Linked DNA regions of Homo sapiens: region 1 is linked to region 2. Evidence: fine-mapped expression QTL. A gene starts in region 2. The other region holds a variant in brackets. All regions are shown on one strand. Distances are between the middles of the regions.

Evidence for each region.
Region 1: its variant is fine-mapped to the expression of SPG21 in whole blood (TOPMed, PIP above 0.99).

Annotation. Positions count from the first base shown.
Region 1 is chr15:64,959,295-64,964,819 of GRCh38, reverse strand. SPG21 (SPG21 abhydrolase domain containing, maspardin) reads left to right here. Exons shown (of 9, transcript NM_016630.7): 9 at 1,084-1,798. The coding sequence ends at 1,200. Among named protein-coding and RNA genes, the nearest start is that of SPG21, 28 kb to the left of the region's middle. The variant C/T (reference allele first, on the strand shown) is at 2,255.
Region 2 is chr15:64,987,983-64,992,982 of GRCh38, reverse strand. It overlaps SPG21 (SPG21 abhydrolase domain containing, maspardin), which reads left to right and starts at 3,069. Exons shown (of 9, transcript NM_016630.7): 1 at 3,069-3,318. RefSeq lists enhancers at 2,636-2,695, 2,736-2,805, 2,861-3,360, 3,361-3,862 and silencers at 2,876-3,365, 3,486-3,535, 3,338-3,632.

The DNA.
Region 1 (5,525 bases), 28 kb after region 2:
TCTACTAAAAATACAAAAAAAATTAGCTGGACGTGGTGGTGCACACCTGTAGTCCCAGCTACTCGGGAGGCTGAGGCAGAAGAATCACTTGAATCCTGGAGGCAGAGGTTGCAGTGAGCCGAGGTCACGCCATTGCACTCCAGCCTGGGCAACAGAACAAGACTCCGTCTCAAAAAAAAAGAAAAGAAAAGAAAGCCCTAACAAACACCATCCCTTCATACTCTAACTAAATGGATAATAGAATAGCAGTGAGGGGTGAGTGCCCTGGCAGTTTGGCAAGATGAATCAAGAGCCTTAAAAAACCAGTTATATCCTGGCCACGCATGGTGGCTCACACCTGTAATCCCAAAAACCAGTCATATCCCTTGATCCTGTCATCCCCTTATAGAAGACAGGATCCTAAACAGGAATACTTGATGCCCAGAGATATTCATCATAGCAGCACTAGTCACAGTAGCAGAAGATTGGAAGGACCTAACTCACAGCAGCAGAAGGGAAGGGTAAACATCTCATGAGCATGCACCATCTAAGATGTCTCAGGAGACTCTGCAGGGACTCAGGGAGACTGCTCAGGGAGTGAGGAACAAAGATCCCAAATGTGGTTTCAAAAAATTGTTTGACTTTTCTCTATTTAGTATGTCTTAGTCTGTAAATTTTAGAAGTATAAAACATTTGTCCACTATGGTGATGTTTTCCTACCAAACTTTTTATAGAAGGCAGTATACATTTTACTCTGTAATGCAGCCATTTAAAACAATGATTCTGGCAGGGTGCAGTGGCTCACACCTGTAATCTGGCACTTTGGGAGGCCGAGGCAGATGGATCACTTGAGGCCAGGAGTTCAAAACCAGCCTGGCCAACATGGTGAAACCCTGTCTCTACTAAAAATACAAAAATTAGCTGGGCATGGTGGCGGGCACCTGTAATCCCAGCTACTCGGGAGGCTGAGGCAGGAGAATTGGGTGAACCCGGGAGGCGGAGGTTGGAGTGAACCAAGATAGTGCCACTGCACTCCAGCCTGGGCAACAAGAGTGACACTCCAGCTCAAAAAATAAATAAAATAATGATTCTGCATTTCAACAGATACATTTGCTGCAATTCCATGGAACCAAATACGCGGCCATTGACCCATCAATGGTCAGTGCCGAGGAGCTTGAGGTGCAGAAAGGCAGCCTTGGCATCAGCCAGGAGGAGCAGTAGTGTGTCTCTCGCTGTCAATGATGAGTTGACCCGGTGTGTTCTTGTATAGTCAGTGGCATCAGCACCCGTCAGCCAGCCTTTTCCTTCAGGTTCGTCAGGCTCACCGGTTCTCACTGTGTCTGGGAAGTAGGACTGATGGTCATCTTCATGACAGGCGGCATCTCCACTAAGCCTGTGTAACTGTTCCCTCTTTGGTTTTCTTAGCTTTTGAATTTGAAGAAGTACTTTTGAAGACTCCCATTTTAAGAACCGTGCAAATTTTGCTACCAAAAGTCTTCACCACTGTGTTCTTAAGTGAATGTTAATTTCTGAGGTTTGGGACTTTGTGGTGGTTTTTTTCTTCTTTTCTTTTCCATTCTTCTTTCTTTCTTTTTATGTTGTTTGCTGTAAATGCTGCACATCCAGATTGCATATCAGGACATTGGTTATTTTATGCTTTCTTGGATATAACCATGATCAGAGTGCCATGGCCACTACCCCACTGTTTGCTCTCCTGCAAATCAACTGCTTTTAATTTACACTTAAACAAATTGTTTTGAGTGTTAGCTACTGCCTTTCTAGATATTAGTCATTTGGAATAAAAATTCAATTTAACTGAGTCGCTTTTGTGATTATTGTTGCTGCCCAACTGGGCTACACAGGCCTAGGACTTTCTGAGAAGTAGGTCATGGTTGCCAATTCTGTGTGACTTTGGGTAAGTTACTTAATCTCCCTGAAGTACAGTTTGCACATCATAAAATAACCCTAAGCTATCATTTATTGATCTGCTACTGTGTGCCAGGTACTTTTCTCGTCTTCTTTCCCCTGAGTGAAAATGCTTAAACCCACATGAAGTAGAGAAAATGGCATAATGAATGATGTTCCCATCATCCAGCTTCAAAAATTATCAACTCTCAGACAGTCTTGTTCATCTTTTCTTTTTTTTTTTTTTGAGACAGAGTTTCGCTCTTGTTGCCCAGGCTGGAGTGCAATGACGTGATCTCGGCTCACCGCAACCTCCGCCTCCCGGGTTCAAGCAATTCTTCTGCCTCAGCCTCCCAAGTAGCTGAGATTA[C/T]AGGTATGCACCACCACGCCCGGCTAATTTTGTATTTTTAGTAGAGATGGGGTTTCTCCATGTTGGTCAGGCTAGTCTCGAGCTCCTGACCTCAGGTGATCTGCCCACATCAGCCTCCCAAAGTGCTGGGATTACAGGCATGAGCCACCATGCCCGGACTTGTTCATCTTTTAACCTACCCACGTTTCTTCCACACATGCTCCTATCACTAAATTATTTTAAAGCCATTTCTGGTGCTGTGTCATTTCATCTGTAAATATTTCTATGTGTACCTTTAAGATACAGCCTTAATACCATTATCACACTTAAAAATTTACCAATAATTCCTTCAATTATTTACCAATAATTCCTTCACTGGATTGTCTAATAATCCAGTGAATGTTGTCACTCACAATTATTCCATAAATTTTTTTTTATAGGTGACTTGTTCTAATCATATAAAGCCCACACTTTGTCTCTTAGATCTCTTTTGAACTGGAAGCTCCTCCTCCCTCTATTTTTTCTTGCCATATATTCAGTGAAGAAACAGGTTCATTTGCCCTGTAGTTGCCCCACAGTCCAGATTTGGCTGACTGTGGCCTCATGGTGTCCTTCCACTTGTTTCTCTGTCCCTGGTATTTCCTGTAAACTGGTAGTTACATCAAGAGGCTTGATCAGGTCAAGCTCGATCTTTTTGGCAGGAACACTGCATAGATGGGGCTGTGTGTTTCTCTCGCGTCATCTCAGGAGGCATCTGTCTGGTTGTGTCTAAGTTATTATGATTGCTGGGTGTGTTCAGGCATCACCAGCCTGATCCAGTCCTGAGAAAGTCCCCTGCTGGCTTAGCTGCCACTGCTGACCATTGCACAGGTGCATCATTCCATGAGGGGTTGCAGGTCAGTGATAATATTAATTTTTATCATTCCTTCTGCATTTATTAACTGGAAATTACCGATTTAAAAAAACAAAAACTTGCCCTCATCGACTGCTTGGTTTCGCTGAGATACAATTTAGACAGAAAAATAAGCATCAGTGCTTCTTTCCCTTTATGTGCCAGGTTTCAGAATATTGGGTTGGCCATACCTTCTTAGACTTCATCCCCAATACAGCCCTGATTATCCTGACTTTACAGGTGAGGACCTGGAGACTGGGTCAGGCAGTAAGGGGTGGAGCTGGGATGCCACCTTGAATCTGACCATCCCTAAAGCCAGTGATCTTTCCACAAAGGGGCCACATTGTCTTCTCTATCTGTGGCTTGACAACAGTCATGAGTTATGGAAACACTTGGTAAACCATAAGGGCGAAGCTTGACATTTTAACTAGTAGCGTCTGAGGCTACTAGAGCCGTCTAACAACTTTAACTACTCCCCAGCTCTGCCCCCTGATGACTGCAAGTTGTCATTGCCAGCCCTGATCAATTTTGAGTACTGGCCTTGAATGCGTACTCAGGCCTATTAGGCCAGCCTTCAACAGGCATCTCAGCCTTCGACAGGCAACCAGTCAAAAGCTATGCCCATGGCCCCACTGCCCAAACCTGCCCTTCCTCTTCTAGCCCCATTTTCTTAGGTCCTGGCATCACTATTTCTTGGAATCCCCAGTTAGAAACTCAGCCATCTTGGACCCTCCACCCCCACTCACTCCTCCACCCCCATGTCTCAGGCTGAAGCGGATGCAGAGATGAAAATTTGGGTGCAAGATGTTTATTAAGGATCAACATCTGTGGCCTGGTGTGGTGGCTCACACCTGTAATCCCAGTACTTTGGGAGGCCAAGGGGAGTGGATCACCTGAGGTCAGGAGTTCAAGACCAGCCAGGCCAACATGGAGAAACCCAGTCTCTACTAAAAATACAAAAAAATTAGCCAGACCTGGCGGCACGTGCCTGTAATCCCAGCTACTCAGGAGGCTGAAGCAGGACAATCACTTGAACCAGAGTGGCAGAGGTTACGGTGAGCTGAGATGGTGTCACTGCACTCCAGCCTGAGCAACAGAGTGAGACTCAATCTCCAAAACAAAACAAAAAAACAACATCTGTGAAGGGAAGATGGATTGGGCAGAGAGCGAAATTGAACTGTGATGCAGGCCCGATCAAGTACCCACCAACTCAGTAGGGCACGCAGGAGCTTGAAGCACCCACTGGAATATTTTCATGGAGGACTAAAATGGCTGGGTCTCTATGCTCCCGCGTAGCTCAGTTCCCAGAGGCAGCTGCCCTGGGGAGGGCAGGGTGTTGGGTGGGGCAACTCTCTGCAGCTGAGGCAGACCCTGAAGGGCTGACAGCTGGAGGCCATCTGCCCAGCTCACTCCTGCAGCTGGATGGAAAGGCCTTCCTGGAAGAAGGGGGTCCGGGCAATGCATTTCCACATCTACTACACCTATATCCCCTGACTCTCAGAGATCTAGCAACTTGCCTGCAAACTTGAGCCTTCCTCACTACAAGTTAGGCCTTGGCATCTTTTGCCCAGACTACTACAGTCCTCACTGGCTCCACCAGCCATCTCCTCCCACCCCCACCCATCCTCTGTGTGGTCCACACACAGGTCTGATCTTGTCACTTGCCAGTGCATGAACACTAAGGGACCTCTGTTGTGGAAATCAGACTAGTTTCAGAAACTCTGAAGTGGGGCTGTAACCATTTAGTGAAGCTCTGCACACAGGAAGAGATGCGGGGAGCAACCTCCACTAAGAGCCAGGGACTCCTTCACCTCAGTTCTTAACCTGGGAGTTTTATGGGTTCATTTTGATACATGATGTGATCCAGGGCCTGTACCCGCTTCTAGAAGTTATCTTGGGATCCACAGGAGAAAGACTTCGCACTTTTTAAGTATATAAACCTGCAGACTATATGTGAATAGTTTTAAGTACAGTATATATCTTAAAAAGGGGCCAGGCACAGTGGCTCACGCCTGCAATCCCAGCACTTTGGAAGGCCAACCCAGGCAGATCACGAGGTCAGGAGATCAAGACCATCCTGGCCAACATGTTGAAACCCCATCGCTACTAAAAATACAAAAAAAAATTAGCTGGGCGTGGTGGCATGTGCCTGTAATTCCATCTACTTGGGAGGCTGAAGAGGAGAATCGCTTGAACCAGGGAGTCGGAGGCTGCAGTAAGCCGAGATCGCACCACTGCACGCCAGCCTGGCAACAGAGGAAGACTCCGTCTCAAAGAAAAGGGAGGGAGTAACTGTAAGTAAATATCCATTGGAAAAGTGATTTAAATATACATTTTAGAAACAAGGAGAGTCACAATTAGCAAGGTAAAGTAGACTCTGAAAGGACAAGCAGATGTGCA
Region 2 (5,000 bases):
TTATAGCAGAGGAATTACAGAAATATAGTTGCTTTTAATTATTATTAATATTATTATTATTTGAGACAGAGTCTCACTCTGTCACCCAGTCTGGAGTGCAGTGGCATGATCTGAGCTTACTGCAACTGCCGCCTCCCAGGTGGGTTCAAGTGATTATCCTGCCTCAGCCTCCCCAGTAGCTGGGATTACAGGTGTGCACCACCACACCCGGCTAATTTTTGTATTTTTAGTAGAGATGGGGGTTTTGCCATGTTGGCCAGGCTGGTCTCGAACTCCTGACCTCAAGTGATCCACCCGCCTTGGCTTCCCTCAGTGCTGGGATTACAGGTATGAGCCACTATGCCTGGCTGCTTTTAATTATTTTGATCACACAGATAATATATGAATACATTTTAATATAAACTCAACTATTAAATCCAAAGTCAAAGTTCTTCACCACTCCCTCCATCCCCAGTTCCTCCTCCGAGGTAATCACTTAGCTGCTTGGTACATACCTCTCCAAACATTTTAAAAAGTGCATTCACAGCTGGGCGCAGTGGCTCACGCCTGTAATCCCAGCACTTTGGGAGGCCGAGGCGGGAGGATCACGAAGTCAAGAGATCGAGACCATCCTGGCCAACATGGTGAAACCCCGTCTCTACTAAAAATACAAAAATTAGCTGGGTGTGGTGGCAGGCACCTGTAGACCCAGCTACTCGGGAGGCTGAGGCAGGAGAATAGCTTGAATCCGGGAGGCGGAGGTTGCAATGAGCTGAGATGTGCCACTGCAATCCAGCCTGGCAACAGAGCAAGACTCCGTCTCAAAAAAAAAAAAAAGTGCATTCACTTATGTATACACATGCATAGGGATATTTCTGGATCTGGGATTATTTTGTGTGTTTTCAAACAAATATTATCCTGTGAAAAGATAAATTAAGAGGGACAGAGCCCGGGTTTGGGTAATTCTGAGAGCCAGCTGGCCATCTGTTTACTTTGCTTGGTGTTCACAGCATATTTTGTGAACATTCCAGTTTTTCTGTGAGATTCTCACAGATGAATTGGTGCTGTGGGAACCATCTGGCAGACCCCAGCCACAACAGCTGCAAATCCTTACAGCCATGTCTACCAGGTCAGCCTGCACTGGGACCTGCCTGAATCAAAAGTTTGCTGCCTGAATTTGTGCATTACAATTCAGCTGGAATTCACAGATATTAAATGTTCTTTGTTGGGATTAGGAAAGGGACAATGTGCTTGCCATGTGTTATGGAACAACTGAGGACACAAACATGACCATGGTTTCCCTTCCTGAAAGAAGTAAAACATTTATTATTTTTGGATTGGTCTACATTGTAATAAAAGTTGATATGTAACAAAACATATCTACATAGTGATTTTTTTTTATTGTCAATTGTCAAAGTTTACTACCACACTAACAGAACAATGACTTTTAACATACGGGTATATCCATAGATTAGGTCTCATTAAAGCTGTTACTAAATGGGGTCTAGGGATGGGGTCTAAGGAATACAGCTTTAGGAACAAATGTGGAAATGGGGATAGATTTATTTATTCCACTCATTAATTCATTCAATATAGTTTTTTGTTGGGAGCAGACAAGGTCTCTCGCTTTGTCACCTAGGATGTGGTGCAGTGGATTCGACATCTGGGCTTAACAGATTCTCCCATCTCAGCCTCCTGAGTAGCGGGGATTACAGGCATGCGCCACCACGCCCGGCTAATTTTTGTATTTTTTTGTACAGACAGGGTCTCCCAGGTTGCCCAGGCTAGTCTCGAACTCCTGGGCTCAATCAAGCGATCCGTCCACCTTGGCCTCCCAAAGTGCTGGGATTACAATCAATATACATTTAGTACCTATTATTTATGGGCTAATCATGTGCTAATGGACTGGTGGAATCACTCTATTCCCTTTGCTCTAGATTGAAGCTTCGAGACCACCTGGGAAAATAGACAACTAATGTAATGAATATCCATAACCAGTTTCAGAGACAACCAGTAGTTTGCAAGTTATTCCACCCATTAAACGATTCCAAATGTTGGAGAAAAGGCCCCCAACTTAAAATACTCCACGGAAACGTGCTCTATACATCTATGTGGTGCTTACAATAAAAGATGAATTCCTGCGACTGAGTTGCAACCCCGAAAGAAATGATTTAGAGAAAAAAAGAAAGAAAGAAAAAGGTAAGTATGTCACCGTGCTTTTGGAAAATGCTTTTGGGATTTGTCCAAGTTCTAGAGTGGAACCCAAGGCTCCTGGGCCAGGGGACAGAAGTGATAACTAAGTAGGATGCAATTTAGTTGGAATCTTCCCTGACCTTAATCCCATAAACAGTTGCCTAGGTAAAGGCAAAGTCTACAGGCCCTAAAACAGGGTACAAGCTTTCCCTAAAACATATTAGAGAGAGGCACTTTCAACAGGACCTTGTTGCAGGATCCCTAAAAAAAAAATTCAAAACAAGGAGATTTACATGTTATTCACCTTATCATAATTTCAGAAATATTTTACTAATAAAAAAGGAGTCGTGAAGTCTGGAACACCTTAAGACGTGACGTCTGCAACACCTTAAGAACAATGATTACAAATGTATTAATATTCTCTCTGATTTTAAGGGAAAAGTGATGAAGGAACAGGAAGATGGGTGGGCGTATGTTCCCAGAAATCCCCAGAACGTCAAAAAGGAAGCGGAGGCTTTGAGTGGAGGACTACGGAGAGCGTCTACGGTTGTGCCAAAGGAAAAAAAATGTTCCTAAGAAAAGAGTATACAAAGTTGTGTTCATCAAAGTCTGGAACCCAAAGGTGTCCCTCCAAAGCTGTACACGACAGAGAAAACGCGAACTGAAAGAAGAAGCAGGTCCCAAGGGGCCAGGCGCCTCCTCCACCTCCTCCTCCTCCTAGGTACGTAGGGCAGAACTAAGGCTGACCCAGACGTAACTCAGCCCTCTCCTCACGCCAGCCGCAGCCAAGCATCCCACGGAGCCTCCCCCCGCGCCCGTCGCCGTGGCGACCGCCGGGGCCACGCAGCACCGCCCCTTCCTCGCGACGTGGCCCCGCCCTCTGAGAACCCGGAAGCGGGAGTCTCGCGCCAGCTGAGCGGCGGTCGGGCGGGGGGAGCGCGGCGGCCCAAGCTCGCTCGGCCACGCGCCCCGCCCCCTCAGAGGCCGGCCTCCCGCACGCACCGCGCAGCCTGCTGTGCCCGTGGGTCCCGAGTGCTCCGCCGCCCGCCCCGACCCGGGCCCAGCCGCCTCCACGGCCCGCGCTCGTACTGGAGCGAAGAGCGGCCTCCTGAAGGAGGGGAAGGGACGTGGGGGCGGCCACGGCAGGTGAGGGTGGGCGAAGCCCTGGGAAGCGGCTGGGTGTGCGGTATGCGGGGTTGTAGGTGTGTGTGTGTGGCGCGTGGCTGCCTTGGTTGGTGTGACTTTGTGAGTGTGTTCTGAGTGGGCCGGTCCATGTGACCACGCACGTGATCACGTGCCCTTGTGAGTGTGTGTCTGGGGCCGAATCTGGGCTGTGGGGTGGTCGGTGTGCTTGTGACCCTGCCTTTGTGTGGCTGTCACCGGTGGGACTGGCGGGGAGCTGTGTGTGAGTCTCCAGCGGGAGGTGGGGGCGGCACAGGGCTTAACCGGGGCATCCTCCTGTAAACCCATCCTGGGGCTACACGACTGCAGCCCAGGAACATTTCTTTCTTTCTTTCTTTCTTTTTTTTTTTCTCAGCAAACTTTTAAGAACTGTGAGCAGAGGCCAGTAATTTTGGAGACAGGACCTCGGCCTGAAAGTGATAGATGTCTTTGTTGTTACTGAGTGTGGGCCAGGTGTAAGGTTTGTAAACGGGGGATGAGGAACAGAGCGGGACCGGAGTGTCTCATTTTTCCTCTTCTCGTTTTCCTGGGGAGTTATAAGTTAGACATTTATGCTGCTTCCTTTGTCTCCACCTACACTGGTTCAGCTCCTTTTGGCACAAAGATTCAACAAATTAAGGAGTAACTTTTTTTTTTTTTTTTTTTTTGAGACGGAGTCTCGCTCCGTCGCCCAGGCTGGAGTGCAGTGGCGCCATCCCAGCTCACTGCAAGCTCTGTCTGCTGGGTTTACGCCATTCTCCTGCCTCAGCCTCCCGAGTAGCTGGCACTACAGGCTCCCGCCACCACGCCCGGCTAATTTTTTGTATTTTTAGTAGAGACGGGGTTTCACCGTGTTAGCCAGGATGGCCTCGATCTCCTGACCTCGTGATCCGCCCGCCTCGGCCTCCCAAAGGGCTGAGATTACAGGCGTGAGCCATCGCGGCTGGCCACTGAGGAGTAACTTAATAGCTGTGTCCAAATTCCAAAAGCTTTTTTCCCAAGAGCATGAGAAGAGATGTCACAGATGTCAGGTAGGCACCTTTTCCTCCTGTAAGGTTTAGAGATAATGCAATGAAGAAAAGAGGGATAGATCTCCCCTGAAGAGATCTAAGAAAAGGATAGCTGTGTACTTCTGTGGTGAGGGATGGAGACGTGCATTAAAAAGCCAGTTGCATCTCCCAGAGACTCTCAGCTTCTAATATTTTGTTATGGCTAGTATTTATAAGCACAGATTTTCCACAATGCACATCAACTATAGATTGAAATAAAGTAGCAGAAACCTCTGACTAATTATGCTGGTTATGTGACTTAAACATTGATAAAGGTGATTTTGTTGACTTTAAAGTGGCAGGTTCTGTTGAAGCCATGAGGGATAGGGGCATAGTCACAACTGGCAGGTTTTTTTGTTTGTTTGTTTGTTTGTTTTTTGAGACAGAGTCTCACTCTGTCGCCCAGGCTGGAGTGCAGTGGTGTGATCTCAGCTCACTGCAACCTCCGCCACCCAGGTTCAAGCAATTCTCCTGCCTCAGCCTCCTAAGTAGCTGGGATTACAGGAGCCCATCACCGCGCCCAGCTAATTTGTTTTTGTTGTTGTTGCTGTTTTGTTTGTTTTTTTGAGATGGAGTTTCGCTCTCGTTGCCCAGGCTGGAGTGCAATGGCGTGATCTC